Regions from separate parts of the Homo sapiens genome. Here all the other regions are linked to region 1. Evidence: fine-mapped expression QTL. A gene starts in region 1. Each other region holds a variant in brackets. All regions are shown on one strand. Distances are from middle to middle.

Region 1 (5,075 bases):
CCATGTCCAGCTAATTTTTTTTCTTTATTTTTCCTTTATCTGGTATTGGTTTTTGTTTATGCTGTGAGGTAGAGATCAATTTTATTTTCATCCAAGTGAAAAGGTAGATCATGCCACTCCTTTGCTCAAAAATTTCCAAATCTTCCCATATTCCCCAAAATTAAAGTTCTTTCTTTTCTTTTTTTTTTTTCTTTGAGTCAGAGTTTTGCTTTTGTTGCCCAGGCTGGAGTGCAATGGCATGATCTTGGCTCACTACAACCTCTGCCTCCTGAGTTCAAGCGATTCTCCTGTCTCAGACTCCTGAGTAGCTGGGATTACAGGCATGCGCCACCATGTCCGGCTAATTTTGTATTTTTGGTAGAAACAGATTTTCTCCATGTTGGTCAGGCTGATCTTGAACTGCTGACCTCAGGTGATCGGCCCACCTCAGCCTCCTGAAGTGCTGGGATTACAGGCGTGAGCCACCACGCCCTGCCTAAAATTAAAGTTCTTAAAATAGAATGAAAGTCCATATATGATCTGGCCCTCTGAAATGTCTCTGACCTCATCTCTTTCCAGTGAACACTGGCCTCCTTGCTCTTCCTTGAACACTCCCGAAATGTTCAGGGCCCTTGACTTTCTGTTTGTCTGCTGGAAATTTTCAATGTCTATACTTCTGGCTTCCTCATTTCCCAAGTCTCTGCTCAAGGTCACCTTATCATGGAGGACTTCTCTAGCCACCCTAGCTAAAATCTCCCTCCAACACACACACACACACACACACACACACACACACACCCCAGCGTTTGGTATTTCTCTTCTTTCAAAGAACTTACCTGAAAAACTCTCTGGGTCTAGTATAGTTGTGTGTTGGGGTAGTGGTAGATGGGTATTTTTAAAAGTGTTGATTTAATTTTTTGAATGGCTTAAGGACTACATGGGACTTTCAATTTCTTCTTAAGTTAGTTTTAACCCTTTCTCTACAAAAAAATATATTTTTAAAATTAGCCAGAAATGGTGGCACACACCTGTAGTTCTAGCTACTTGGGAAACTGAAGTGGGAGGATCCCTTGAGACCAAGAATTTGAGGCTGCAGTGAGCTATGATTGTGCCACTGCACCCCAGCCTGGGCAACAGATACCCTATCTCTAAAAAACATTTTTTAAAAAATTTTACTTTCTGAATAGTTAATATATGCCCACAGTATAAACATTCAAGTTTCAAAAGTATACACAGTGAAAATTAGATCTCTCTCCATCTCTGCCTTCTAGCTACCTGGTTCCCCTCTCTTGGCATCAATTTCTTGTCTGTTTCCCTAGTTTCTTATTTATCCTCCCAGATATATGTCGTGCATGTAGAAGCACATAACATATATTGTTTTTACATAAATGGTGGAATGCCATATATATTATCCTGCACATTGCTTTTTTTCCACTGAACCATGTATGTTAGATTTGCTTCCAAAGCTATTCATAGAGGGCTGCCTCATTTCTATTCCAGTTACCTAATATTCTATTGGATGATGTACCATCATTTATTTACTTAGTCTCCTTCTGAAGGATAATTAGGCTATTCTGTCTTTACAGTGGCCTTCTAAGAAGCCAGTGTGTTTTGCCCATCTTCAATCGCTGCTTCACCCTGATGTCAGATATACCTTCTCCTTAAACTTCCATTCCCATGCTATCATTTCCCTGTTCAAGAATTTCCAACAGCTACCCAGTTCCCACAGAATAAGGCTGAACTTCTTACCCTTGAACGAAGATTCTGCATGGTCTCTGCCTTCTTTTCCATCATGTCTTCCTGTTCCTGAGGACACTCCCCAAAACTGATGACTTGAGGTTTTCCCAAATGTACCTCTGATTTTAGGGGCTCCAAAGTTTTCTTCAGCCTGCTCTACCGTCCCCTTTGAACCCTATGAGGGAAATCCTTCCCTCCCCCTGGACTGGTCACACTGGGCTCCAGGTCCTCTCTGGAACAGCTGCACTTTAAATATTTCAGCCCAGTCTCCCACTGTACACCCTACAGAGCCAGAACAGGTGTTTTGAATTTTGTTTGGGGTTACTGATATTTAAATTGTTCACCAATGGTCCTTCCTCTTCTAAACTCCAAATTCCTTGTGGGCAGGGACTGATGACTGGGAATGGGGAATACTAAAATGAAAAGATATCCTGACTTCCAAGTAGCTTAAAACATAAAGGTAAGCTGGGCACAGTGGCTCACGCCTGTAATCCCAGCACTTTGGGAGGCTAGGGCAGGTGGATCACGAGGTCGGGAGATCGAGACCATCCTGGCTAACATGGTGAAATCCCGTCTCTACTAAAAATACAAAAAAATTTAGCTGGGTGTGGTGGCAGGCGCCTGTAGTCCCAGCTACTTGGGAGGCTGAGGCAGGAGAATGGCGTGAACCCGGGAGGCGGAGCTTGCAGTGAGCCGAGATTGCGCCACTGCACTCCAGCCTGGGTGACAGAGCGAGACTCAGTCTCAAAAAAAAAAAAAAAAGAAAGAAACATAAAGGTGAGCCAGATATGCAAAATTAAAATACACAACACAGTAGGATCTTAGTTTAAGTGGAAGTATGCTCTATGCTCAGGGCAATCATGGTCGGGGGGAGTTTTTATTTTATTTCATTTTTTTACTTTAAATCTCTGGTCTCTAGTCCAGCGTCTGGTACATGGCAGCTGCCCAGTAAGTGCCTGTTGAATGGAGAATAACATAAAAAGAGGCATTTAAGGCAAGTGTCAACTTCTTGCAGTAACAGTCACCTTTTATATATAAAATAAGTCAACAGATAGTGTAGTGTGGATGTCGCTTATCTTTTGGGGAGAAAGAGGGCTGTGTGGGAGGGGATGGAATCAACTTTCAGCCAGGGAGGGAGGCGAAGACATTGCCTCCCGGGTCGGGGGTGGGTGGGGGGTCCAGGCGGCTGCGGGGCGCGGGAGAGGCGGGGAGAAGGGAAGGGGGAGGAGACTCTCGCCTCCTGCCCCGCCTCCCCCACCCCGCGGCGGCGGCGGCGCAGGGCGGCCGCGCGGGTGTTGGCACCAGAGGCAACAGCTGCAGCAGCCGCGCCGCCCCCTCGCCCGCGGCTCCCAGGGTGATCCCGAGCACAGCCGGTGGCTCGCGGCGCGGCAGCCCCAGAAGACGGGAAAGTTCGCGGCCGGAGCGCGGAGATGCCGGGCAGCGACACGGCGCTCACCGTGGACCGGACCTACTCGTACCCCGGCCGGCACCACCGCTGCAAGAGCCGGGTGAGCGCAGCGGGCTGGGGGGCGGCGGGTGCGCGCGGGCCCGGGGGCGAGGCGGGCTGGGGCGGCGGCTCAGTGCTAACCCACGCGCCCCCGGCGTTTCGCCGCCGCCCTCCGCTGCCGCCGGAGGTCCGTGCCTCCCCGATCCTCCGAGCTAAAAGGGTGGGCGTCGGGGGCGTCGGAGCCCAGGCTGCGGTTCTGGGATCCCAGGTCCGCCTGCCCCTCACGGCGCCCAGGTCCCCGCGCGCTATGCGGGACGCCCGGTTCCCCGACGGCCCGCGCTCTGCTGTCCTCCCCGCCAGGGAGCGCCCGCCGCTCCGCGAGGGAATCCCGCCACCCGGCCACCCGCGGCCCCGCGTCTCCAGGTCTCCGGGGTCTCGCCCTGGGTGTGACGGTGCCCTCCCCGCCGAACGTCCCGGCGGCCGCCCTGTCTCCCTGTCCTCGGGGCGTGTGGCCGGAACCCGAGCGCGGTGCGCAGCCGGAGCGCGGGGAGGCGGCGGACGGGCTCTGCCCAAGTGAAAAGTCAGAATCTTTGCGCTGCCTCTCCGGAGTTTCGAGCCGAGCCGAGCAGGCGCCCTCGCCATTGTTTGCAGTGTAATTTGCTGTTGCTGATTTTGGCTGTGGGCGAAAATAGCTCATTCTGAGCCTGCTGCAGAGACGAGCCCTGTAGGGCTTCAAAATAAAGACGGAGGCCGCAGCCCAAGCGCGGGTCTGTCCTGGGAGAGGAAGCCTTCGCCCTCCCCGGTGAATACCTTTGCCCTCCCGGGCTGTTGAATCGTCGAGGCTGGATGTGAGGCTCTGTAACCCGTTCTCCCCAGGGCTGATTGAAGTGCCATTTAACAAAGCACCTCCTCCACGCTGGCATCTGTTCTGGCAGGAGGCACCTGGAGTTGTTCTTTGCTCCGCCAACTACTTACTCGCTTGTCCGAGAACTGGGGATTTGGGTGTCAGCCTCTGTGTAAAGTTCACGGAGGGAGAGCCGGGCTCAGATTCTGGCCTGCCACTTCCAAGATCGAGAGACCAACTGGATGGAAATAGTAGCAATAGTGACGGGGTTGTGTCGCGGCCCTTTGTGCAGGATTTTGGTCTTCACTCATAATTTGAAGTAGTAATCGATTGCCCCAGAAGTGAAGCAATGAGTCTCTGGTTTATTTGCCCGCTTTCCCTTTTTCCTTTAGCATCTGTTAATCATTTTGGAAGGATGATTTGAGTTTTTACAGATTGAATATATTTGGTGGAATAATACCTCATGCACTCATCTCAATCTTACAATTCTCTTGTTTTTGCACTTTGTGTATAAGTTTCGTAACAGTTTGCTGTGAAAATAACCAGAAACTCCATTTGGAATAAACATTGAAGAAATGTGCTTACCCACAGGTAGACATTTCTTCTTGGATAGCTGTAATGCTAGTTAACAGAACTATGAAGAAAAGGAGATCATCTTCGAATGCATTTGTAATTGAGAGGATTCTGTAAAGTTAATATTGCAGACTTGAAATGTGAAAGCTTGTTTTTTCTTGTCACAACTGTGATCTTCTTTGTGTAAACAAGATTAGTAATCTTAGCGGGATGGATGGCTCATTGTCAACTCATTTAAGTGGTTTGGCAAAACTCATGCAACTTTACAAAACTCACTCTTCATAACCTGTAAAATGGTGGTGATAAAGTTTGTGCCTCAACTGCTTAGGTGGAATGTGGTAAAGCAATTGTGTAAGGTAACTGCAGAGTGTTTCTGCCGCATCTGCCACTGTTGCCTGTCTACGCCAGTCTTTTCTATTAAAAGGTCAAAACCTTATGTGATTTCTTGATTTTCTTTAAAATTCTGCTGACGGGCCGGGGGCGGTGGCTCATGCC
Region 2 (5,075 bases), 170 kb before region 1:
TGTTAACTTTCTGTCTCGTGGATCTGTCTAACATTGACAGTGGGGTGTTAAAGTCTCCCATTATTATTGTGTGGGAGTCTAAGTCTCTTTGTAGGTCTCTAGGGACTTGCTTTATGAATCTGGGTGCTCCTGTATTGGGTGCATATATATTTAGGATAGTTAGCTCTTCTTGTTGAATTGATCCCTTTACCATTATGTAATGGCCTTCTTTGTCTCTTTTGATCTTTGTTGGTTTAAAGTCTGTTTTATCAGAGACTAGGATTGCAGCCCCTGCTTTTTTTTGTTTTCCATTTGCTTGGTAGATCTTCCTCCATCCCTTATTTTGAGCCTATATGTGTCTCTGCACATGAGATGGGTTTCCTGAATACAGCACACTGATGGGTCTTGACTCTTTATCCAGTTTGCCTGTCTGTGTCTTTTAATTGGAGCATTTAGCCCATTTACATTTAAGGTTAATATTGTTATGTGTGAATTTGATCCTGTCATTATGATGTTAGCTGGTTATTTTGCTCGTTACTTGATGCAGTTTCTTCCTAGCCTCGATAGTCTTTAAAATTTGGCATGTTTTTGCAGTGTCTGGTACTGGCTGTTCCTTTCCATGTTTAGTGCTTTCTTCAGGAGCTCTTGTAGGGCAGGCCTGGTGGTGACAAAATCTCTCAGCATTTGCTTGTCTGTAAAGTATTTTATTTCTCCTTCACTTATGAAGCTTAGTTTGGCTGGATATGAAATTTTGGGTTGAAAATTCTTTTCTTTAAGAATGTTGAATATTGACCCCCACTCTCTTCTGGCTTGTAGAGTTTCTGCTGAGAGATCTGCTGTTAGTCTGATGGGCTTCCCTTTGTGGGTAACCTGACATTTCTCTCTGGCTGCCCTTAACATTTTTTCCTTCATTTTCAACTTTGGTGAATCTGACAATTATGTGTCTTGGAGCTGCTCTTCTCGAGGAGTATCTCTGTGGTGTTCTCTGTATTTCCTGAATTTGAATGTTGGCCTGCCTTGCTAGGTTGGGGAAGTTCTCCTGGATAATGTCCTGAGGAGTATTTTCCAACTTGGGTTCCATTCTCCCTGTCACTTTCAGGTACACCAATCAGACATAGATTTGGTCTTTTCACATAGTCCCATATTTCTTGGAGGCTTTGTTTGTTTCTTTTTACTCTTTTTTCTCTAAACTTCTCTTCTCACTTCATTTCATTCATTTGATCTTCAGTCACTAATACCCTTTCTTCCAGTTGATTGAATCGGCTACTGAAGCTTGTGCATGCATCACATAGTTCTTGTGCCATGGTTTTCAGCTCCATCAGGTCATTTAAGCTTTTATCTACGCATTTATTCTAGTTAGCCATTCGTCTAATCTTTTTTCAAAGTTTTTAGTTTCTTTGTGATGGGTTTGAACATCCTCCTTTAGCTCAGAGAAGTTTGTTATTACCAATCGTCTGAAGCCTACTTCTGTCAGCTTGTCAAAGTCATTCTCCGTCCAGCTTTGTTCCATTGCTGGCGAGGAGCTGCGTTCCTTTGGTGGAGAAGAGGCGCTCTGATTTTTAGAATTTTCAGCTTTTCTGCTCTGGTTTCTCCCCATCTTTGTGGTTTTATCTACCTTTGGTCTTTGATGATGGTGACGTACAGATGGGGTTTTGGTGTGGATGTCCTTTCTGTTTGTTAGTTTTCTTTCTAACAGTGAGGACCCTCAGCTGCAGGTCTGTTGGAGTTTGCTGGAGGTCCACTCCAACCCTGTTTGCCTGGGTATCACCAGCGGAGGCTGCAGAACAGCAAATATTACAGAACAGCAAATATTCCTTCCTCTGGAAGCTTTGTCTCAGAGGGGCACCTGGCTGTATGAGGTGTCAGTCGGCCCCCTACTGGAAGGTGTCTCCCAGTTAGGCTACTTGGAGGTCAGGGACCCACTTGAGGAGGCAGTCTGTCCGTTCTCACATCTCAAACTCCGTGCTGGGAGAACCACTACTCTCTTCAATGCTGTCAGACAGGGACGTGTAAGTCTGCAGAAGTTTCTGCTGCTTTTTGTTCAGCTATGCCCTGCCCCCAGAGGTGGTGTCTACAGTGGCAGGCAGGCCTCCTTGAGCTGCAGTGGGCTCCACCCAGTTCGAGTTTCTGGGCCGCTTTGTTTACCTACTCAGGCTTAAGCAATGGCAGATGCCCCTCCCCTAGCCTTGCTGCTACCTTGCAGTTCGATCTTAGACTGCTGTGCTGGCAGTGAGCAAGGCTCCGTGGGCTTGG[G/A]ACCCTCCGAGCCAGGCGTGGGATAAAATCTCCTGGTGTGCTGTTTGCTAAGACCATTGGAAAAGCGCAGTATTAGGGTGGGAGTGTCCCGATTTTCCAGGTGCTATCTGTCACGGCTTCCCTTGGCTAGGAAAGGGAATTCCCCGACCCTTTGTGTTTCCCGGGTGAAGCGATGCCCCGCCCTGCTTCACCTAACACTCCCTGGGCTGCACCCACTGTCTGACAAGCCCCAGTGAAATGAACCCGGTACCTCAGATGGAAGTGCAGAAATCATCTGTCTTCTGGGTCACTTACGCTGAGAGCTGTAGACTGGAGCTGTTCCTATTCGGCCATCTTGGAACCCACTCAGCTGTTTATATATTTTCTTTGGTGAAATGTCCATTCAATTTTTGGCCTATTTTTATTTTTATTTATTTATTTATTTATTTTTAAGGTGAAGTCTTGCTCTGTCACCTAGGTGGGAGTGCAGTGGCACAGTCTTGGCTCACTGCAACCTCTGCCTCCTAGGTTCAAGCGATTCTCCTGCCCCAGACTCCCAAGTAGCTGGGATTACAGGCATGCTCTACCATGCTTGGCTAATTTGTGTATTTTTAGTAGAAACGGAGTTTCACTATGTTGATCAGGCTGGTCTTGAACTCCTGACCTCAGGTGATCTGCCTGCCTTGGCCTCTCAAAGTTCAGGGATTACAGGCGTGAGCCACCACACCCGGCCTGGCCTATTTTTAAATTGAGTTCCTTGTCTTATTATTGAGTTGTGAGAGTTCTTTATATATTCTGGATATAAGTGCCTTATCAGATATCATTTATAAATATTTTCACCCATCTGTGGCTTGCATTTCATTTTCCTTTTCTTTCACTGGTAAATATGTAGAGTAATTAATTAATTTTCTTAATGGTGACTTTTGAAGAGAGCTTTTAATTCTGAAGTCCAGTTAATCAATTTTTTCTTTTATAGTTTGTGTTTGGCCTTTGCCTCTTAGCACCCAAATATTCCTGTCTCTTTGGTTTATTCTTAGTTTAGATGTCCCAATTTTTACTCTTTCATTCTCCCTGGATCTACATTTATTCCTGTTTGAGGACAGAAGGCAAAGCCCAGCCTCCAAGTTCTCTTGCTAATACACTGTGTTGGGCACCTTCCTGGAATTGTGTGTTCAGGCCTTTGGTAACTATGCAGGCCTTTGGTAACTTTGGCTACCAAATCTTGAGATAGAAGGTGAAATTAGACCTTCCTCAGCAATTTACAATTGAAGTCAGATAAGAAAAATGACTGCTTTATATGCAAATTTTTCTTTTTTAAAAAATTAGTTGAGTGCTTCTCTACTTATTGATAAACATCAATAATTATAAAAATATCCCTTACATTGCTTTAAAGGTTTTCAGAGTTAATTTACCTTTATCTTCTCATTTAGGTCCTTTTGCAGATAAGAAATACAAGAGTTTAAGTAGAATAAAAGGGTATTTAACACAAATTAGTTAATATTGGAGACACAAGTATTATTTGATCATTTTTTCCAGAGTCTACCAAGAATTTATTTATTTATTTATTTTGAGATGGAGTCTTGCTCTGTCGCCAGGCTGGAGTGCAGTGGTGCGATCTCAGCTCACTGCAACCTCCGACTCCCTGGTTCAAGCAATTCTCCTGCCTCAGCCTCCCAAGTAGCTGGGATTACAGGCACATGCCACCACACCCAGCTAATTTTTGTATTTTTTTTTAGAGACAAGGTTTCACCATGTTGGCCAGGATGGTTTCGATCTCCTGACCTTGTGATTCGCCTGCCTCGGCCTCCCAAAGTGCTGGGATTACAGGCGTGAGCCACTGCGCCTCGCCCCAAGAATATTTACCATTCACCATGCAAAAATGAGTGGGAGGAGAGGGTAGCACTGGGCTCTGTCTACTAATCTGATGAAGCTCAGCTATAGTCAGAACCATAGAATTGCAGATTCTTGATGCTGAAAGGGGCCTTGAAACTTCAGAGTGCATCCCTTCACCCACCAGAGGAATCCTTAGATTGCTCTTGTTGGTTGATAATCTTCTGGCTCCCAGGCACTTTCAAAAAGAAAGCTTAAAACTTTTCAAGCCCGTGGGATCAATTCTTGGATAATTTTAAGTATTGGAAAATCATTTTATGTATGGAGCCTAACTTAGCCTCCCCTGTAAATTTCACCCGTTGGTGACACAAAACAACTAGTGCCATTCTTTATTGGCAGCTCTTCAAATATCGAAGAGTACCTTAAACCATCACTTCCATGGTTGCCACCTGTTCTATCAACTATTTTGTGTTTAATTTGGATTCCAGACTTACAGCTGTGATAGTCACTTCTTGCTAGATGCAATTCCGATTGTCTATATCTTTTGTGCCTAAATCAAACCTACACATCAGATATGGCCTGGCTGGGAGAGTTTTGTGAGCCTGTTAGCTCCTTTGCTCTGGGTGAGGGCTGCCCAGTGGTGTTAGTTACTTATCAGCTACATTGCAGTGCTGACACGTGTTGGGCTTGTGATTAGCCAAAACGCAAATTTTATTTTCTCCTGTGGATTTTGGCTAAGCCAGTTCTCTAATATCTTTTCTTATGTAATTGCTATCTTCAATATAAATGCAGGGATTTACAGTTAATATTACTATTTAACATTAATGATAATACTAGTAACTAGCATCTTTTGAGGACTTACTATATTTATCTTGTTGGGTTTTCCCCAGGATGTGCCTCTTGGGATCATTTTGAATCTTATTTCTTCCCTTTTCTTGGTTTTTCTCTCTACTGAGAGAAATGTTTGTATATTTAGTTCCTACCCATCTGGGTCTCCTGTCTGCCCAGATATATTTTAATTTTGGCTAGTTTAT
Region 3 (5,075 bases), 26 kb before region 1:
GAGATACTGCTCCTAGCAATCAGAGAAGTCTTCTTTGAGGAGGAGCATTTGATCTGGGCCCAGATGGGAGGAATTTCTGTGAGAGAGGAGGGATTATTCTATGCAGCAGCGGAACCATAACCTGCAAAAGCACAAAGGGAGAGGCAAGGCACGTGCAGGGCGCGGTGAGTGAGGCAGAATGACTGCAGGGCAGAGGGTGCGGGAGTGCAGGAGGGTAGGTGGGAAAGACTGGTCAGAGGGCGTTTGTGGAAGGTCTCAGAGGCTGGTGAGCATCATGTTAATCTCCTAGTCCATCCCTCAGGTTTGAGAGCTGAATACCCACTAAATAAGAATTGCACTGTCTTTTTTTTATTCTTTTTGCATTTATAATACTTACGATCCTAGCCAGGGCTGACTTGGAGGCAAGAATAATTCCCTGGCAGTTTTAGGAAGCTGCATGAATTACACATTCCTGGTTATGTGGACTCTCAACTTTTTGTAAACGGTAAGTGTATTACCAAAGGTGTATGATTCCTTGTGCAGCCACCCCCACGGCCCCCATCCCACCCCACCCAACCCCCGCCCTGCTGGCCATTCCTAGCTACAACCACAGAAGCCAACGCAGCCCAGAAGACAGTGCTGATTTGGGTGTTCCTGTCATTGGGCAGCCCTAGACTCCAGGCCTAGGGCGCGGCGGGGGTGGGGTGGGGGCAGGAGGGAGGGCAAGAGGAGGAAGGAAAGCCAGTCTCTTTTTGCAGATAGAGAAGAGGGTGCCCAGAAGAATTGTGCTGAGCTGGTGATTTGAGCTGTTATCTGCTTGGATGTACGATTGATTCACTCCTACTCCGAGGTTCTCAGAGCCCAGAATGTTCCATAAGTGAAACAATTGATGCATTCGGTCTCTGTGGCACTTAATCCACCACTCCTACCCCCATTTTAATATTTGTAATAGTGATCAGTGAAGGGCAGGACTTGAATGTTTTAGAACTAAAACGGGATAAAAAGTAAAGTCCTAATAATGGTTCTCTTCTGTCTTTGTCCCTCTAATTAGAGAAGGCCATATCCATGTCTCCATAGGAAATGGACAGTTAGGGAATTGGTACCGGGCTGGAGTCATGTGTAATCTTGCCCTGCCTGAGGGAGGCCTGATGTTGGAAGTATTTAAGAGAGTCTGAAAGCTTGGCTGCTCTAATAATTAGACTGGCTGTACTGGTTTTTCTTTGCTTATTAAATCACAGGCCAGAAACACCTCTGTGGCAGGACCTGTGTACTGAATTGGTATGCTGTGAGATCCAGAGCAAACTGAAAGTATGTCACACTTTGAGCATTTTCACAGACCAGTCATGGCCACAAGTTTAGGCCTGGCTTAACCTGATTCACTGGAAATCAGCTTCAACAGCACCAGCTGTAATGAAAAGTAAATATGCAGGTGTTTGTTGTTATATATCTGGCATTGTTAAGCTATCACTGAATTTTTTAAAAATCTTGAATCAGTTGGTGAATGTACATGTATCCAAACAGCTTGCTTCCAGACTGTGTACAATATCTTCTTTCTTTTTTTGAGACAGAGTCTCCCCTGTTGCCCAGGCTGGAGTGTAGGGGTGCCATCACGGCTCACTGCAGCCTCAACCTCCCAGGCTCAGGTGATCCCCCCACCCCAGTCTCCCGAGCAGCTGGGACTACAGGTGCACACCACCATGCCTGGCTAGTTTTTGTATATTTTGTAGAGATGGGGTTTCACCATGTTGCCCAGGCTGGTATCGAACTCCTGGGCTCAGGCGATCTGCCTCGGCCTCCCAAAGTGCTGGGATTACAGGTGTGAGCCATTGTACCTAGCCCATAAGTATCTTTTAATGCTTACCTTCAATTATGATAGATATTGGGAATACCTTGCATTTGTATAAAGCGTTTTTACTGGCTGATTTCAGTTGTTTGAAATCATGCATCCTCTGTCAATCTTCTGGCTGATTCAGTTGTTTGATTCTGCCCAGAACCAAGTGTGGCATAATAAATATTAGCTCCTTGATCCACAGAGGATGCTGACCCTGAATTGAGTGACTTATACAAGATGACAAAGCTAGACAGTGGCTGGCCGGAAAGAGCAGCCCACTAGGTCATCTGCTTTTGGGTTCAGTGTTGGGGTTTCTCCACCACATTGTGACAGAATAGTCTGGCTTGACTGGTTTTTTCTAAAGCACTGATTTTTCAGCTTCCCAAGAAAACCAGAGTAGATCCTCTTTTTGTTTATTTTGTTGACCCAGTTATACACCTTCTGTTCTATAGCTTTTCCCATCTTCTAGGATATGGGACGCAAATTTTATGCATAGCCAATGATTTTTTAAACCAAACTCATAAGCAAAATCTGAATTTCCTTGGAGCAGGAAGCAGAGAAAACAAATACCTTCTCTGTGCTGATTGCTCACATAGACATGCTAACCCACACTCTGCAAAGGGGTTGAGTTTTAGAAATTTAAATTACTTTGTTGTCACCTAAAATAAAACCTTCCCTAGACACTCCCCCAGCACTCTCTTTTTTAGTTTTTATTTTTGAGACAAGCTTTCGCCATGTGGGCCAGGCTGGTCTGGAACTCCTGGCCTCAAGTTATCCACCCACCTCAGCCTCCCAAAGTGTTGGGATTACAGGCGTGAGCCACCGTGCCCAGCCCCTCTGCCCTCCCTTCAACTATAGCCTTATCTTCCTCCTTGTCTGCTTTGCAGGCCAACCCTGGAGAGAGTTGGCTAACTTCCTGTCCTTA[T/C]TTTCTCATCTCCCTCTTGTTTCTCACTCTTCTTCCGGCTGGACACTGGCCAGGTTTTTGTTAAGGTCACCGGTGGTCTCCACATGACTCAGTTCAGTGGACTTGAGTTTTTCAGACTCAATTTATTTCTCTTAGGGGATTTAGTACACACTGTGACCTTGGGAAATTTACTTCTCTAAATTATTTGCAAAATGGGCGTAGCACCTTCCTCCTCAGATTGTAGCGAGGTCTAAATGACATAGTTTGTGGGAAGTGGTGAGCATAGTGTCTGCTACAGTGAGAAGTACATGCTAACCACTGCTTTTATCAACACACTTCCCCTGGTTCCGGTGACACTGTATTTTCTTGTTTTCCTCCTATGCCTTTGGCCCCTTCTACTCCTCTGTGTTATCATGAAAGGAAATGAAATGCGTCTGCGGCAACAGGACTCTGGATGTGAGTCCCTGGATGTGAGGTGTTAAAGGAGGGACACTCCCAAGAGAAGTCTTAAGCAACTAAGTGGTGGTGCCATTTGCTGAAAGGTGGGATCCTAGAGGAGCCAGAGGGGCATGGAGGAAGGCGGGCACACTTGAACATACTGAGCCATCCATGTGTAGATGAACTGGATGGATGGGTGAGTAAGGCTGGAGGTCAGAAGAGACATAGGAGCAAGAGGCTCCATGGCCGGGCAGGTGGCTCACGCCTGTAATCCCAGCACTTTGGGAGGCTGAGGTGGGCGGATCGTCCGAGGTCAGGAGTTCAAGACCAGTCTGGCCAACATAGTGAAACCTTGTCTCTATTGAAAATACAAAAATTACACTTTGGGAGGCTGAGGCGGGTGGATCGCCTGAGGTCAGGAGTTCGAGGCTAGCCTGGCCAACATGGTGAAACCCCGTCCCTACTAAAAATACAAAAATTAGCTGGGCATGGTGGCGCAAGCCTGTAATCCCAGTTACTCGGGAGGCTGAGGCAGGAGAATCGCTTGAACCCGGGAGGCGGAGGTTGCAGTGAGCCGAGATCGTGCCATTGCAATCCAGCCTGGGCTACAAGAGCGAAACTCCATCTCAAAAAAAACAAAAAACAAAAAAACAAAAATTAGGTGTCGTGGCATGCGCCTGTAGTCCCAGCTACTTGGGAGGCTGAGGCAGGAGAATCAGTCGCTTGAACCTGGGAGGCAGAAGTTGCAGTGAGGCGAGATTGCTCCACTGCACTCCAACCTGGGCAACAGAGTGGGACTCCATCTAAAAAAAAAAAAAAAAAAAAAAAAGCCAGCAGTGGTCTGGGAGAGAAAGCAAGATGGGAAGGGAACGGTCTGGGACAGATGCAGAGAAACGTTGAACTGTTTCAATAGCCTCCTGATCAGCCTCCCGGCTTCCACCCTGGCCCCCCCATAAAAAGTCCTTACTCTGCCAGAAAATGCCACAGGATCTGCGCTGCTGTTCTTCTAACCCCAGGCTGCTTCTCTGACCTCATCTCCACCCTCCCCGCTCTCCTGCTCGGCTCACTCTGCTCCACCCATGCTGGTTTTCTTGCTGTTGTTCCTCAAATGGATCAAGTGCTCCCCTTCCTTGGAGCTTTTGCACTTGCTGGTCCTTTTGCCTAGAATGGTCTTTTTCTAGATATTCTACATGTATCACCCCCTCACTTCCTTCAGTTCTCTAGTTAGGTGTCCCAGCCTATCCATGAGAACTTCCCAAAACATATTATTCAGAAATGCAACACTCATCTATCCCCTTTTCTCTGCTTTCTAAAATTTACTAGCATCTGATATGATCTATATCTACCTGACATATTTTGTTATATTGCATAATATGGTATTATATACTATGTTTCTATATGTGACACATGTAATAATGATAAATATATATACTAATATACCATAATATATATTATACCATCCCTATATATTCTAATCTGCTATATTATACAGTAATTTTTAAAATTTCCCACCTCCAAATATAACTCCATGAAGCCAGCAACCTAATTGTGTTCACTGCTATATCCTTGGAGCCAAGAACATTTCCTGGCATGAAATATACACTTGCTAATATCTGTGGAATTAAGAAATTCCAACATTTCATGATAGCAAAAAAAAAAAATCAACTTTTATCTCCCCCAGGGTTGCCATTTGAAGCTGCAAGTACATTATGCAGAGTTGGTTGCTGTGGTACCAATATGTTTTACATTTTGTATAGTAATGTTCATGAAATGAAGGATGGGTTTCCAATTTCCATTAGTGCAGGATGCACTCGAGTCCTGCCAAAAGTTTCTTCCCTTTTGAAATGCCTTATCTCCAGCTTAAAAACTTCAACTTCCTTTTTTAAGACCCAGCTCCCTTTCTCAGGAAATGTGTGTTTCTAC
Region 4 (5,075 bases), 38 kb after region 1:
TGGGCCTCCTCGGACCATGCTTGGACACCCCATAGTGTGGGATTCATTCCCCATAGGGTGGTGAAGGCTCAGGTTCATGTGATTTCTGCCTGGGGGAGCCTTTGATCTCACAGGAAATCTGTGTTCACTTGTGGCTCTTTGTCATAGAAGACTTCTCTATATTGACACAAAATGCAATCTTTCTTTCCTTCCCTGAACATTAAAATATTTGCACACATTTATTAATTCAGGTGGTTTTGTCCTAATCAGTTCTGTAGCAAAGGTTTGCCCATTGTTGATAGTGATCCCCAGTCTTCAGAAACCAAAACACCTGGGGGTGGGAGAGGAGGGAAAGTTGGAAAAGTTTGCTGCTTGTCATTTGATCATTTGGGTCTTGGAGGTTACATTTCTGTTGTTTAAAATACAAAAATTAGCTGGGAGTGGTAGCAGCGTCTGTAATCCCAGCTACTCGGGAGGCTGAGGTAGAATTACTTGAACCCAGAAGGTGGAGGTTGCAGTGAGCTGAGATCGCGCCACTGCACACGAGCCTGGGTGACAGAGTGAGACTCTGTCTCAAACCAAAAAAAAAAAAAAAAATCTGTCTGTTGTTTAAAAAAAGAAAAAAGTCAGAGAGGCCAGTTGTTCCGACAGCATATCATGCAATAGCCTCGTAACACTGTGAGTGCAACAGTTGACAGAGCTTGATGCACACAGTTTCAATTGGAATAAAAGGGAAAATGGCTCCCCAAACTGCAAGAGTGCTGCTTGTAAAACAGTCAGAGCTGCTTTCTGTGCCAGGCTGTTCAAAAAGATGTGGGAACAGGGCTTGTCCTGGTTGACAGGCCATTCTGGAGAAACCCTGACAATGCTGGCCACCCCTCTGCTGTCCTTCCCACCTGTTCCTTTCTAGTCAGTTTATGGAGAGGAGGTTGTTTTTGCTTCCAGGGGGATTACTTGTGGCCTGGGGGCAATTACAGGGCTTTCTCCTGACTGCATGCTTCACATTCCTGTGTGTAACCAGTGAGGATAATGATCCAAGAAGATCATTGCAGTGGTGACCCGAGGACCTTTGAGACCAGGTCACAATTTAAGTAGGGTCTCAAATTTAGATTTTAACATTATTACCCAACGAGTTAAGTATAGAGCCAGAGATAAAGCAATAGGATTGACAGAAGACATTCATTCTACAGCTTAAGCAAACACACACACACATTTTATTTTACTGTGTAATTTACTCCATAGTTTTTTTTTTTTTTTTTTTCTGGAGATGGAGTCTCACTCTGTCGCCCAGGCTGGAGTGCAGTGGTGCAACCTCGGCTCACTACAAGCTCCGCCTCCCAGGTTCACGCCATTCTCCTGCCTCAGCCTCCCGAGTAGCTGGGACCACAGGCACCCACCACCATGCCCGGCTAATTTTTTTGTATTTTTAGTAGAGATGGGGTTTCACCGTGTCAGCCAGGATGGTCTCGATCTCCTGACCTTGTGATCCGCCCATCTCGGCCTCTTGAAGTGCTAGGATTACAGGTATGAGCCACTGCGTCCGGCCTACTCCATAGTTTTTATTTTAAAATGTTTGTAAACTAATATCATACAAAGAAGATATTCCATTAAAAAATACATGAAACACCCCTGTACGTTATACCCAGGGTGAGGAGATGAACTTGACCCTGTGACCTTCCCTGATTGAGCATCCCTACATCACAAGCCTTCCCACCCCCAAGAGGTCATCGCTGCCATAAGGTTTAACTATTCTCAAGATTTTTCTCTTTTTATCACATGTGTGTTCATACCTAAAAAAGAGTTTGCCTGCGTTTGACCTTTATAAAGTAGAATTCATAAAGTATGTGTTCTTTGATTTGCTTCTTTTAAGATTTAATCATTTTATTCTTTTTGAGACGGGGTCTCGCTCTGTCACCCAGGCTGGAGTGCAGTGGCGTGATCTTGGCTCACTGCAGCTTCAACCTCCCAGGCTCATCCTCTTGCCTCAGCTTTCCAAATAGCTGCAACTACAGACGTGTGTGCCACCATGCCTGGCTAATTATTATTATTATTATTATTGGTAGAGACAGCATTTCATCATGTTACCCATGTTGATCTCGAACTCTGGGCTTATGTGATCCACCAGCCTCGGCCTCCCAAAGTGCTGGGATTACAGGTGGGAGCCATTGTGCCTGGCCCATTTTAATTCTTGTAGTTCTGGTTTATTTCATTCCACTGTACAAATAAACACAATGTGTGTGTGTGTGTGTGTGTGTATCCATTTTATTGTGTGTATATATATATATATCTCCAATGTGCGTGTATATATATCTCTCCATTTTATTGCCCATAGGCTTTGGATTATTTGTGGGTTGTCTTTTGTTATTGCTTTTATTGTTTTTCTTTTGCAAGTGATGCTGCTGTGTATATTTTCAATGTGCTCCTAACAGGGGCACTTGCTCCTCTAACCTACAAATGGAATTTCTGGGTCTCTAGGGGATGCACATGCTCAAATGCCAAACAGTTTTTAATGTTTTAAGAATCAGTTAAAATCAAACACTGCAAATATACCTTGCAGTCTGCTTTTAGCATTGCTTCATTTTAAAATGAATCCTAGAACCACTGAAAAAATTTTAAAAGTGCAAGTAATTCT[G/A]TCTTGCTTTGTCTTCTGAGAAACTGACTTTAACCTTAAGGAGATAACATTATTCCTTTTTTGTAGTTGTAGCTGTAGAAACAATTTTTGAAGGACAAAACCAAACTTTAAAACTTGAGGCCAGGTGCGGTGGCTCACGCCTGTAATCCCAGCACTTTGGGGGCCGAGGCGGGTGGATCACAAGGTCAAGAGATCGTGACCAGCCTGGCCAACATGGTGAAACCTCGTCTCTACCAAAAATACAAAAAATTAGCCGAGTGTAGTGGCGGGCACCTGTAGTCTCAGCTACTCGGGAGGCTGAGGCAGGAGAATCACTTGGACTCGGGAGGCGGAGATTGCAGTGAGCCGAGATCGCACCACTGCACTCCAGCCTGGTGACAGAGCGAGACTCCATCTCAAAAAAAATAAATAAAATAAACTTGAGAACCATTTGGGCACGCTGGCTCATGCCTGTAATCCCAGCTTTAGGAGGCCAAGGCAGGCGGATTGCTTGAAACCCAGGAGTTCGAGACCAGCCTGGTCAACATGGTGAAACCTCGTCTCTACAAAAAAATACAAAAATTAGCCGAGCATGATGGTGTGCACCTGTAGTCCCAGATACTCAGGAGGCTGAAGTAGGGGGATCAGTTGAGCCCAGGAGATCAAGGCTGCAGTGAGCTGTGATTGCACCACTGCACTCCAGTCTGGTTGATAGAGCAAGACACTGTCTCAAAAAACAAACAAAAACACCAAACCTGAGAATCACAGGTAAAACAGTCTAGCCTCAGGAATCACATGAACTATATGTAAACAGTCTCTAGATGAACTCTGTGACCCTTCAGTTGCCATGAATGGATATACAGTTGGCCCTCCACATCCACGGATTTCACATTCATGGATTCAACCAACCAGGGGTCAAAAATATTTAGGAAGAAAAATTGCATCTGTACTGAACAGGTACCGAGTGTTTTTTTTTTTGTCATTATTCCCTAAAAAATACAACTATTTACAAGCATTTACATTGTATTAGGTATTATAAGTAATCTGGAGATGATTTAAAGTATACAGGAGGATGTATGTAGATTATATGCAAATACTACACCATTTTATATCAGGGACTTGAACACTCGCAGATTTTGGTATCTGCAGGAGGTCCTAGAACCAATCCCCCATGGATTCCAAGGGACAACTGTATATATACGCCTATCATACACTGCCATGGTCTGCTTGTATGAGTATTCTCAGTGAAGAGTCTTTATGGAAAACATCATTGCCCATGAAATACAGATTCAAAGCTGTGAGCCTTGGGCAACCCAGTTCTCAGTAGAAATATTTCAGTGGCATTGGTCCCTTAAAAAGACAGCATTTTATGAAGTTATTTAAGAAAGATGTAACATTAGTATTCAATATTTTAATGGGACTTTTACTTGAAAACTTATATTTATGACTTGGCAATTCCAGCTTAGTCCCATAAAATTTGTTTTAGAACTACCTTTTAAGCCATGGTTTTATTTCCTTGGGAAATGGGATTTAAAATTTCTCTTTTCAGTAGGGAGTTACTTTTCTAAAAGTAATTACATAAACAAAATTCAGTTAGGATGAGTTACAAAAATGCCTACTATCCTATAGATTATTTATTTTGCTACTGTTAGTAAAATCATAGGTCACTGGAGGAGACAAGGAAGTATCTTAAGTGTGCTAATGAAATTTTGCAGGTATTTGCATATTAGTCTCACTTTGAAATTCAGGCACTGGGGATTTTTTTTTAATATGAAAATAAGATGAATTACTCTCTCAAAAAGATAATATAAAACAAAAAGTATCTGTGTCTGCAGATTCCCAGTCCTATTCCCCAGAGGTAACTACCATCCACAGTTCTTAAGACAGCTTCTAGAAATGTTCATACACATAGAGTATACAATTGTACATATCTATCATAAATCCCTCCACCCCTCGTTTAAGCACAGATGAGCGTGCACAGTAGGCATAGCCCTGCGTCTTGCTTTTCTCTCTTAACAGTTTAGATTGAATAGCTTCCCATGGTAGCCCATTCAGATCCGTTTCCATTTTAGTGGCTGCATCATTTCCCATTGTACTAGAATTTTAAAAAGAGGTTCTCTATTGATGGATGTCTATGCTGTTTGCAGAATTGGCAGCAGATGGGGTGGTTGGTGGTGGTGGTGGTGGTAGGGGTGGCAGACTATCATTTTTTTAGAAGCAGCATAGAAGAATCAGAGAAAGAGGCAGAAGACTTGTAAATATTTTCATCTCCATTTCTGTTCTTTATATCTCTTGAAAAAAAAATTTTTTTTTTTTTTGCCTGCCTTAAGGTGTTTTCAGAACTATATGGAAGCCCAAAAGGGCTAGATGGTTTTTTCTTCCTAGCCCTTCTTTCCTTGTGGTGATCATGATGGTGAAGGAGATTATGATATGTAACCAAAACACTGGGGAAAAGGAATGTATTTACACTTGGTGGCTAAAGAAG
Region 5 (5,075 bases), 42 kb before region 1:
AGCCATGTACACTGGACTCCCAGAGAAGATGGGGTGGATCTTGAGGGGCAGGTGGAAGGTACCAGCACCGCTGCCACCCTGGGCATGCCCAGGAAATGGTGGGGCAGATCGCAAGTTCAGTTTTGCACACTTCTTGGCATTCGTGCAGATTCAGACATTCTTGGCTCCAGGTGTCTAACAGATGGCTAGATCTTCCAGGTAGACGGTTACAAATTACTTTTTGTAAGTGTGCATTTGGAAAAAGTCCGGCAATGGATTAGTTGGAGGACAACGAATTGAAATTGGTTCTTCTACATAGCCTTTGAGACTGATTCATTATCTCAGTAGCTATATCTCTTAAAAAACCTCAGTTCACTTATTTATAAAATGAACACGGTAATACATCCTTCTCAGGGACATGTAAGGCCTCAACTAGGTAAAGTCTAAAGGTTTTATAGGCCTTATTATGATTTTTAATAGACTTTTTAACAATTTTTGAGACTTCTCATGGAGATGAGAAGTCTTAATGTGCAGAGTAACATAGGCCCTCTTAGATTTGAGATACAGGTGCCTGTATCTTTCTTTAGATTGTTGACTCTGTGGCATATTATAGACTGTCACATCTTAGAGGTTCATCTTGGAGGTGAATAACTTGACTTGAAAGGTCATATGGATTTTTCTTTGACATTTTTGCACTTTAGATCAGCAGTCCCCCACCTTTTTGGCACCAGGGACTGGTTTTATGGAAGATAATTTTTCAGACAGTGGGCGGGTTGAGGGGAAGGGATAGTTTGGGGATGATTAAAGTGCATTACATTTATTGTGCATTTTATTTCTATTATTATTATTACATTGTAATATATAATGAAATAATTATACAACTCAACATAATGTAGATTCAGTGGGAGCCCTGAGTTTGTTTCCCTGCAACTAGACAGTCCCATCTCGGGGGGCACGGGAGACAGTGACAGATCCTCAGGCATTACATTCTTGTAAGGAGCGCCCAACCTAGATCCCTCGCATGCACAGTTCATATAGGTTTCATGCTCCTATGAGAATCTAATGCTGCCTCTGGTCTGATGGGAGGCGGAGCTCAGGTGGTAATGTGAGTGATGGGGAGCAGCTGTAAATACAGATGAAGCTCCACTTGCTCGCTCGCTTGTTCGGTCACCTGCCACTCACCTCCTGCTATGCAGCCCAGTTCCTAACAGGCCATGCACGGGTGCCAGTCCATGGCCCCGGAGTGGGGCACCCTTGTTTTGGACGGTCTCAGACATGCTGACCAGGATAATTGGGACCCTCTCTACCTAGGATCATCCACTTAAATCAACTGACTAAACTTCCTCCCTCATTATTGTAATCTGTATACTACAGGTAAACTCTAGAATAAATTACTGATGTAAAAATTGAACACGTAAGGACTGTCATGTCATATATCTACCAAGTACCTTAAGGTTTAAGCAGTATGTTGGTAACTATGTGAAATACCTGAAACTCTCACACATTATTTGTGGTGGGAATTTAAGTTGGTTCAGCCGTTTTGAAAAACCAGCAATTTCCACTAAAGCTAAATGTATACCCACCCCAAGAATAGCAGTTCCACTACTAGGTATACAACCAAGAGAAATATGTACATGTGTCTTCTAAAAGACATGCACAATAGTGTCCATATCGGCCTTATTCCTAACAGCCCCAAACTAATTAATAATCCAAGTGGATATCAAGAGGGGAATGGATACAATAAAATGTGGTGCTTCCTATACAGGGAAATACTTCATAGCAATATAAATAATGAACTAATTAAAATATAAACTAATGAAACATGCAGGAACATGGATGAATTTCAAAGATATCATGTTGGGTGAAATAAGCCAGACACTAAAAGAGTACTTTTACGAAGTTCAGGAAGAGGTAAAACTTGTTAGTGGTTATGGAAGGAAGTTAAAAAAAAAAAAAAAGATTATCCCTTATGCCAGGGTGGGGCTGGGAAGTATTGATTTGAAAGAGTCATAATGAAACATTCTGGGTGTTGGAAATATTCTGTATTTTGATACAAGTGATGTTACAGAGGCATACCTATGTAAAAATTCATCAGACTGTATACTTTAGCTTGTGTACTTTACCTACTTTGCTTCTTATACACTATAATAAAAATGGTTTTGAAAAAAATTTATTGAGTGTTACAGCCAAATCTTGGCAAATGTGGCAATGATAATACCAGGAAACGTAGTGAAAAGTTTGCCTTAACTATAACGTGATCTTTCTGGAGAGTTTGGCAATGTGTATTGAAAACCTTAGGCACATGCACACTTTTGACATAACTATTCTTTGGAA[A/G]TCATTAAGATCGTGTGTAGAAGTTTCTTCATAGGATGTTCATTTCAATGTCCTTTGTAATATTGAGCATTTGGAAATAACCCAATGTTCAATTTAGAGAATTGGTAATAAATTCTGAAATAATATGCGGCTACTTAACAAATGTAGTGGAGGAAGGGGCTGTGTTTGCTTTCATGTGTGTTTCTATGGAGGAAACAAAGTAGACAGGACAAAGACTTCAGAAAATGGTTAGTTGGCTTAAAAGTGGCTGGCTCTAATCATGATAAAGACATTTGAAATATGTTTATTGAATGAAATTGATGGATAGTAGATGTCCGATTATCACATGATTTCATCCCTGGAAGAAAAATGCTATAGGTCTCACATTCCTTCCTGAAAATCTGTTTCTTCTCGTATTCTTTCACTTAGCCTTAGATTTGTCTGGGGTCTGTGTATCTGATTCAGACCCAGCAAATAAAATCTTGCCTGTGGTCTTGAAAGTGTATTTTTCCTTTTTAGCATTGCTGGTTGTATTCGTCCGTTTTCATGCTGCTGATAAAGACATACCCGAGACTGGGTAATTTATAAAGAAAAAGAGGTTTAATGGACTCACAGTTCCATGTGGCTGGGGAGGCCCCACAATCACGGTGGGAGGTGAAATGCACATCTTACATCGCAGCAGATGAGAGAGAATGAGAACAAAGCCAAAGGGGTTTCCTCTTATCAAACCATCAGATCTCGTGAGACTTACTCACTACCATGAGAACAGTATGGGGGAAACCACCCCTATGATTCAGTGATCTCCCACCAGGTCCCTCTAACAACATGTGGGAATTACGGGAACTATAATTAAAAATGAGATTTGGGTGGGGACACAGCCAAACCATATCATAGAGAAACTCCAGGCCTCTAAGAGAGGCTGTTGATGTAAATATAGGGACTGCAGTGGCTCACGCCTGTAATCTCAGCACTTTGGGAGGCCGAGGTGGGTGGATGACCCAAGCTCAGGAGTTCAAGACTAGCCTGGGCAACATGGCGAAACCCTGTCTCTACCAAAAATACAAAAATTAGCTGGGCGTGGTGGCATGCGTCTGTAGTCCCAGCTACTTGGGAGACTGAGGCAGGAGGATCACTTGAGCTCAGGAGGAGGAGGCTGCAGTGAGCCAAGATCGCACCACTGCACTCCAGCCTGGGCAACAGAGCAAGACTCAGTATCAAAAATATATATATATATATATAAATATATATAATATATATAATATATATTATATATACACACACACAGAGAGAGAGAGAGCGAGCGCATGACACTGAGTGATAAACAGTAAAGCCATTCAGAGGAAAGCTGCTGGATAAAATGGAAGCCTGAAAACATTCCCACAGTAAAATCCTACCCTGTGTTTCGTTACCATTAAATATCCTTTCAGAGTTATCTCTAAGAAGCCCACTTGGAGACATCTAGACTTTCTAAAATTTAATAATGTCTCCAATGGAAATAACATTACATGCTAATTAATTGTCATGGGGTAACATTATTCAAATTGGTAACTGTAACTCCCAAAGATTACATTAAGTTTGATCAGTGGGCACAGCTGTTCTCTGAGAAATAAATTCAGAAACTTATTTCTGTCTCTTCTTCTTTTGACCAAAGGAAAAATTAAGTCAGTGACCTTGGTAGGTTTCTTATTTTGAACAATGTGTATGAGATTTTGTGCTGTCATTTCTAAAAGCTTTTTAATTCAGGTTAGCCAAAAATCTCTGGAAGAGGGTAATTTTTTCACTGGAAAATTCGAGTGTCATATTATTTTCAAGGTTACCTTGTATTGAGCTGGGTTTTTTGTTTTTTTTTTTAATGTCTCAGAGCTTCAGTTTCTAAATCTGTAACATGGAAATAATAATGGTACAACATCTTAGTGGTAGTAGAAGAATTACATAGTGTCTGGCATGCAGCAAGTGCTCAATTATTGTAACTCTGTATGTTTGCATAATAACTCCAGGTGTATAGCATTATATACACAAGTTATCTTGGTTTCTCACCTCCTATTTACACCATATTTGGCACATACTAGGCATCAATTATTTTTTTGCCTAAAGTCCCCTATTTTGTGGGATCGAAAAATCAAATCAATTGAACTCATAGACATAGAGAGTAACAGGATGGTTACCAGAGGCTGGGAAGGGTAGTGAGGGTTGGCGGGGAGGTTGGGATTGTTAATGGATACAAAAAAAAATAGAAGGAATGAGACCTACTATTTGATAGCACAATAGGGTGACTATAGTCGATAATAATTTAATTGTATATTTTTAAAATAACTTAAAGAATGTGATTGGATTGTTTGTAACTTAAAGGATAAATGCTTGAGGGGATGGATGCTCCATTCTCCATGATGTGTTTATTTCACATTGCATGCCTGTATCAAAGCATCTCATGTACCCCATAAATATATACACCTACTATGTACCCAGAAAAAAAACATTTAAAATAAAAAAAAATAATAAATTTTAAAAAATGAAGTTCCTTGCTTTGGTTTGTCTTATATGGAAAAAAAATGGTGTCTAGTATTTTTTTTCTCTAGACCACACCAACCTGGTGTTTCAGTAGAATTACAAATATTTTCCAGTAAAATTAAACATGACAATAGCAATTTAATCCCTTTCAAAACTCTCCATTTTATTCAAGAGGATTCTCGTGGTACCCTGTCTTTCTACCTCATTTGTTCATTTATTCATTCCACAAATATTTACAGAATACCAGTCCTGAGCTGTGCACACAGGTAGGTGCT
Region 6 (5,075 bases), 96 kb after region 1:
CAAGAGGCAATGGTGCTGAAAGGGTGAGAAATGGTACAGAAATGGTAGAATTGGAAATCAAACCCTCCTCTGTCTGATGCCAAACCATCAAGTCACTTCCAGGGACATGAAACAATCTGTGGCATGCCTTTGGGATCCTGAATTAGCAGAATTTCTGGGATTTCAGTGATTTATGAGAACACTATACAATTAGCAGTGTTTCTGTACACTAACAGCAAATTATCTGAAACAGAAATTAAGAAAATTCCATTTACAATAGCTACCAAAAATTAAAATACTTGGGAATAAACTTAAGGAGGTGAAAGATCTGTACACTGAAAACTAGAAACCACTGATGAATGAGATTGAACAAGACACAAATAAGTGGAAAGATATCCCATGTTCATGGATTGGAATAATTATTATTGTTAAAATGTCCATACTACTCAAAGCAATCTACAGATTCAATGAAATACCAATCAAAATATCTATGACATTCTTCACATAAATAAAAAAACACTTATGAAATATATATGGGATCCCAAAAGACCACAAATAGTCAAAGCAATCTTGAACAGAAAGAAGAAAGCTGGAGGTATCACATTACCTGATTTCAAAATATATATAAAACTGTGGTAAACAAAACAGCATGATCCTTCCGTAACAACAGACAGATAGACCAATGGAACAGAATAGAGAGCCCAGGGACAGAATATTAGAAATTTAGAATTTCTGATTTTGAGTTTTCTAGGATGTTTGAAAGCCATCTTCTCAGAATAGGATGGTCAGAAGGTATAGAGAGGGACCCAGCCTTCAGTTATAGTTATGCAGCCTCCCAAGGCCTGGCTCGCTCTCTTTGGAACCTCTTTGGAACTTCAGGGGCTTGAAGATTCCCATTGGGCATAAGGAAGTTGAGATCTGCTCCCAGGTTTTAGTACTTTATATTTATACATTATTAATGCATAAATAAAAATATAATATGTAATAACGTTTACTATATATTTAGAGATGTTCAGTTCTATATGTAAATCAATTTATTTGTTTAAATTTTTAAAAATTTTGAACTGATCATAAACTTAGTGAAAAGTTGGATGTTCTGTACAAAGAATTATATTTTTCCTGAACCACCTGAGAGTAACCATCAGTTGCCAACCTGATATCCGGTCACATGCAGTTACTCTAACGTGTAATTCCTACAGATAAAGACGCTCTCCTTCAAAACCATAATACAGCTGTCAGAATCAGGAAGGTAAATAGATGTCTTACTGACATCCAGTCCTTAGACCCCACTCAAGTTTCACCAATTGTCCCAATAATTGCCTTTGCAGCAAAATGACCTAGTTCAGAATTACAGGTTACCTTTAGTTATCTCTTTTGTCTCCTGAATGAAAGAATTCCTCCCATCTTTCCTTGACTTTCATGATCATGGCACTTTTGAAGATTATAGGCCAGTCATTTTGTATAATGTCCCACAATCTGGTGTTTCTTTGTGATTAAACTCAAGTTATCCATCTTTGGCCAGAACATCACAGAAATGATACTGTTCTCATTGCATCCTGTCACATAGAGCTCAGTTTCCATTTGTCCCATTATTGATGATTTTGCTTTGATAATTAAGGTGTCTTCTAGGCCCCTTCACTGTAAAGATGTTTTGTCCCCATGAGTAATTAATGAGGATTTAGTGGAGAAGTATGTTGTACCTCCCATTTCTCACCAAACTTTCAATTTATTCATCTATTTGCTAATATTAGTATGGAATCACTGTTTCCTATTTTATTCAAAGGGTTGTAATCCATGATTATTATTCATTTTAATAACAAGTTGAACCCTGTACAGCTGTGGGAACTCATTTAAGCAATGTTTTGTGTCCTTTTGCCATGTCCTCATTATTCTTTGAGCAAGCACGTGCTCCAGGCTCATGTTGTACTTTCCTTGCCCTAGACCTAGAACTGACCGTTCTTGTAAGGAGCCTGGGTTGCATTTGGTGGAAAACTGCATTTTAAAGCCAAGATCTGGATTCTAGGTTTGCTCTGCTATTAGGGCATCACCACTCCCAGGTCGTCATAGTAGACAGGGTAGGGAATACATTTTGTATATGGATATATGTATGTGTGTATAGTATGTAATGATACAGGTACATACATAGACATCTGTTATGGACTGAATCTTTGAGTCCCCCAAAATTCATATGTTGAAGCCCTAGTCCCAATTGTGATAGTATTTAGAAATGGGGCTTGTGGAAGGTAATCAAGGTTAAATTAGGTTATTAGGGTGGGGTCTTCATGATGGCATTAGTGGCCTTATAAGAAGAGAGGGCATGGCTGGGCGAGGTGGCTCACACCTGTAATCCCAACACTCTGGGAGACCAAGGCAAGTGGATCACTTGAGGTCAGGAGTTCAAGACCAGCCTGGCCAAATGGTGAAACCGCGTCTCTACTAAAAATACAAAAAATTAGCTGGGCATGATGGCACATGCCTATAATCCCAGCTACTCGGGAGGCTGAGACAGGAGAATCGCTTGAACCTGGGAGGCAGAAATTGCTGTGAGCCAAGATTGCACCACTGCACTCCAGCCTGGGCAACAGAGCAAGACTTCGTCTCAAAAAAAAAAAAAAAAAAAGAGCAGCAGTCTCTCTTTCTCATTCTCTCTTTCTGTCCCATGATGTAAGGACACAGTGTGAAGGTAGGGAGCAAGCCAGGAAGAGGGCCCTAGCCAGCATCTTGATCTCGGACTTCCCAGTCTCCAGAACTATGGGCAATACATGTCTGTTGTGTAAGCCACCCAATCTAGTGTATTTTGTGATAGTAACCTGAGCTGACTAAGACAATGTCTGTATTTATTTATATACTTATATGCATTTATATAAAAATTTAAATCTCTGCTGATTTCTGCATCTATGTCTATATTGAAAATCATGAGTGCGCACTAATACCTCCAATACCAATCAACACCTCTGGGTTTATTCAAGCTCTCCTTTCCATATTTGTAACTTCTTTCTCCTACAGTGAAAGCACGGACTTCCATTGTCTCTAACATATTTACTCATTTTCTCCACTCCCTCTGTATAACAAATTTCCCATCTCTGCTGCCCACATCTCCACCATGTGGGTGATGGTTGGGTACTAACA[G/C]TGCTGACTGCCTCGCCCTACTTGGATCTAAGACAACCTTGCTGGTGGCCCCAGTGCATGTACCTCCCTGCCACCCTCTCTGGCTTTGACACATGCTCCAGGCTGCCCATTCAAGGAAGCCCTCTTCCACCCTTCTGGATTGATGACTCTGCCGGGTACCCCCTCCCCTGTGTCCTCCTCCCCATGCCTGAGCTCGGCCACCCTGCTCTAGGCTACCAGCCCCTCCCACCATGGGTCCCTGCCTTACTCTGTTCAACTAACTGCTAATGGCTTTAAAACTGAATTATTCTGGAAGGAAAGGGAACAAGGAAAGGAAGAGCATTTTATTGTGGGTTTTTTCCTGATTATTTTAGTAATACAAAATGACTTGGAGACATTTGGGGAAATATAGAAGAGACAGAGAAAGATAAAAATCCGCATTAATTCTTCCACCTAGAGAAAACCATTATTATCCCTTTCCCTCCAAAAACGTTGAACTTAAACAAAAACAACCTTCACCACCCAACCCTACCCACGAAACTACTACTTTCCTCAGTTGAGAAAAGAATATATGCACATGCCGGGCACGGTGGCTCACGCCTGGAATCCCGGCACTTTGTGAGGCCGAGGCAGGCGAATCACGAGGTCAGGAGTTTGAGAACAGCCTGGCCAACGTGGCGAAACCTTGTCTCTGCTAAAAATATAAAAATTGGCCAGGCATGGTGGCCCGCACCTGTAATCCCAGCTGCTCGGGGAGGCTGAGGCTTGAGAATTGCTTTAACCCAGGAGGCGGAGTTTGCAGTGAGCTGAGATTGCACCATTGCACTCCAGCCTGGGCGACAGAGTGAGACTCCATCTCAAAAAAAAAAAAAAAAAAAAAAAAAAAAAAAAAAGAATATGTGCACATGGTTGAAAAATTCAGAAGTAACCTTCCTTCCCACCCAGATCCCCAAGACCCCTCCCCAGATGCAACTGTTGATATCTGTGTATTGTGTATTCTTCCAGCTATTTTCTATGCATATATAATATATGTTTACTCCATTTCTCAACCAAATTGAATTTTACCTTTCTTACATATTTCCTCTTAGTCTTTTTGCTCTGCATGTATATAATCTAGCAAAATATGAACTTTTTCCTATAAGTTGTCACTTGAAGTGCCTGCACAATTTTCCATCATGTATGTGTTTCATTGGTTTCATCTCCTGTTGTTGGGTATCTGCAGTTTTTTACTATCATAAATGATGGGCTTTGTCTTTATTGTGCCAGGGGAGTCATGAAGCCAACCCAGCACAGTGAAGCAGTTCAGCTGCTTTTGGTGGCTAGTAATAGAATGTTGAGCCAAAACTGGCTAAAACAATAGAGGTTTATTTTTCTCAATAATAAGCATTCCAAGGCCGGGTGCGCTGGCTCACGCCTGTAATCCCAGCACTTTCGGAGGCTGAGGCTGGTGAATCATCTGAGGTCAGGAGTTCAAGACCGGGCTGGCCAACATGTTGAAACACCGTCTCTACCAAAAAAAAAAAAAAAAAAAAAAATTAGCCAGGCATGGTGGCTCATGCCTATAATTCCAGATACTTGGGAGGTTGAGGCACAAAAATTGCTAGAACCCGGGAGGCAGAGGTTGCAATGTGTTGAGATCGTGCCACTGTGCTCCAACCTGGGGGACAGAATGAGACTCTGTCTCAAAAAAAAAAAAAAAAAAAAAAAAAAAAAAAAGCATTCCAGAGGTGGGTGATTAAACCAGTTTTGCCCAAGATGCTAAAACACAGAAGATAACATTTCAAAGCCAAGTCACTATAGGTAGAATTTCCAAAGCGCAGGTTTGAGGGCCTCTCCCTGTGTTCCTGAACTCCTCACCCTTTTCAGGATTGAGAGAGGGGAAAGAGAAGATTCTTCAACTGTTTTTTTTCTTCAGATTTCTTCTGAGGTGCCCAGGATGGAGGTTTTACTGCCCTCAACTTAAGGCAGGTCTCAGACAGAGCATTGAG

What was found. PIP is the estimated chance that this variant, and not a neighbour inherited with it, causes the effect.
Region 2: its variant is fine-mapped to the expression of TMCC3 in lymphoblastoid cells (GENCORD, PIP 0.95).
Region 3: its variant is fine-mapped to the expression of TMCC3 in whole blood (TOPMed, PIP above 0.99).
Region 4: its variant is fine-mapped to the expression of TMCC3 in lung (TOPMed, PIP above 0.99).
Region 5: its variant is fine-mapped to the expression of TMCC3 in whole blood (TOPMed, PIP above 0.99).
Region 6: its variant is fine-mapped to the expression of TMCC3 in transverse colon (CEDAR, PIP 0.95).

Annotation. Positions count from the first base shown.
Region 1 is chr12:94,648,502-94,653,576 of GRCh38, reverse strand. TMCC3 (transmembrane and coiled-coil domain family 3) reads left to right here and starts at 3,020. Exons shown (of 4, transcript NM_020698.4): 1 at 3,020-3,224. The coding sequence starts at 3,147. It overlaps LOC105369914 (a long non-coding RNA gene), which reads right to left. Exons shown (of 2, transcript XR_945225.4): 1 at 3,974-5,075; 2 at 2,575-2,672. RefSeq lists silencers at 2,897-3,066, 3,087-3,556, 3,647-3,776 and an enhancer at 2,853-3,568.
Region 2 is chr12:94,820,318-94,825,392 of GRCh38, reverse strand. No RefSeq gene overlaps it. Among named protein-coding and RNA genes, the nearest start is that of MIR492, 12 kb to the left of the region's middle. The variant G/A (reference allele first, on the strand shown) is at 2,233.
Region 3 is chr12:94,674,145-94,679,219 of GRCh38, reverse strand. No RefSeq gene overlaps it. Among named protein-coding and RNA genes, the nearest start is that of TMCC3, 26 kb to the right of the region's middle. RefSeq lists enhancers at 2,441-2,550, 3,141-3,250. The variant T/C (reference allele first, on the strand shown) is at 2,736.
Region 4 is chr12:94,610,263-94,615,337 of GRCh38, reverse strand. All of the region lies in intron 1 of TMCC3 (transmembrane and coiled-coil domain family 3), which reads left to right. Among named protein-coding and RNA genes, the nearest start is that of TMCC3, 38 kb to the left of the region's middle. RefSeq lists an enhancer at 674-1,263 and a silencer at 1,192-1,422. The variant G/A (reference allele first, on the strand shown) is at 2,612.
Region 5 is chr12:94,690,951-94,696,025 of GRCh38, reverse strand. No RefSeq gene overlaps it. Among named protein-coding and RNA genes, the nearest start is that of TMCC3, 43 kb to the right of the region's middle. The variant A/G (reference allele first, on the strand shown) is at 2,314.
Region 6 is chr12:94,552,709-94,557,783 of GRCh38, reverse strand. No RefSeq gene overlaps it. Among named protein-coding and RNA genes, the nearest start is that of MIR5700, 6.5 kb to the left of the region's middle. The variant G/C (reference allele first, on the strand shown) is at 3,109.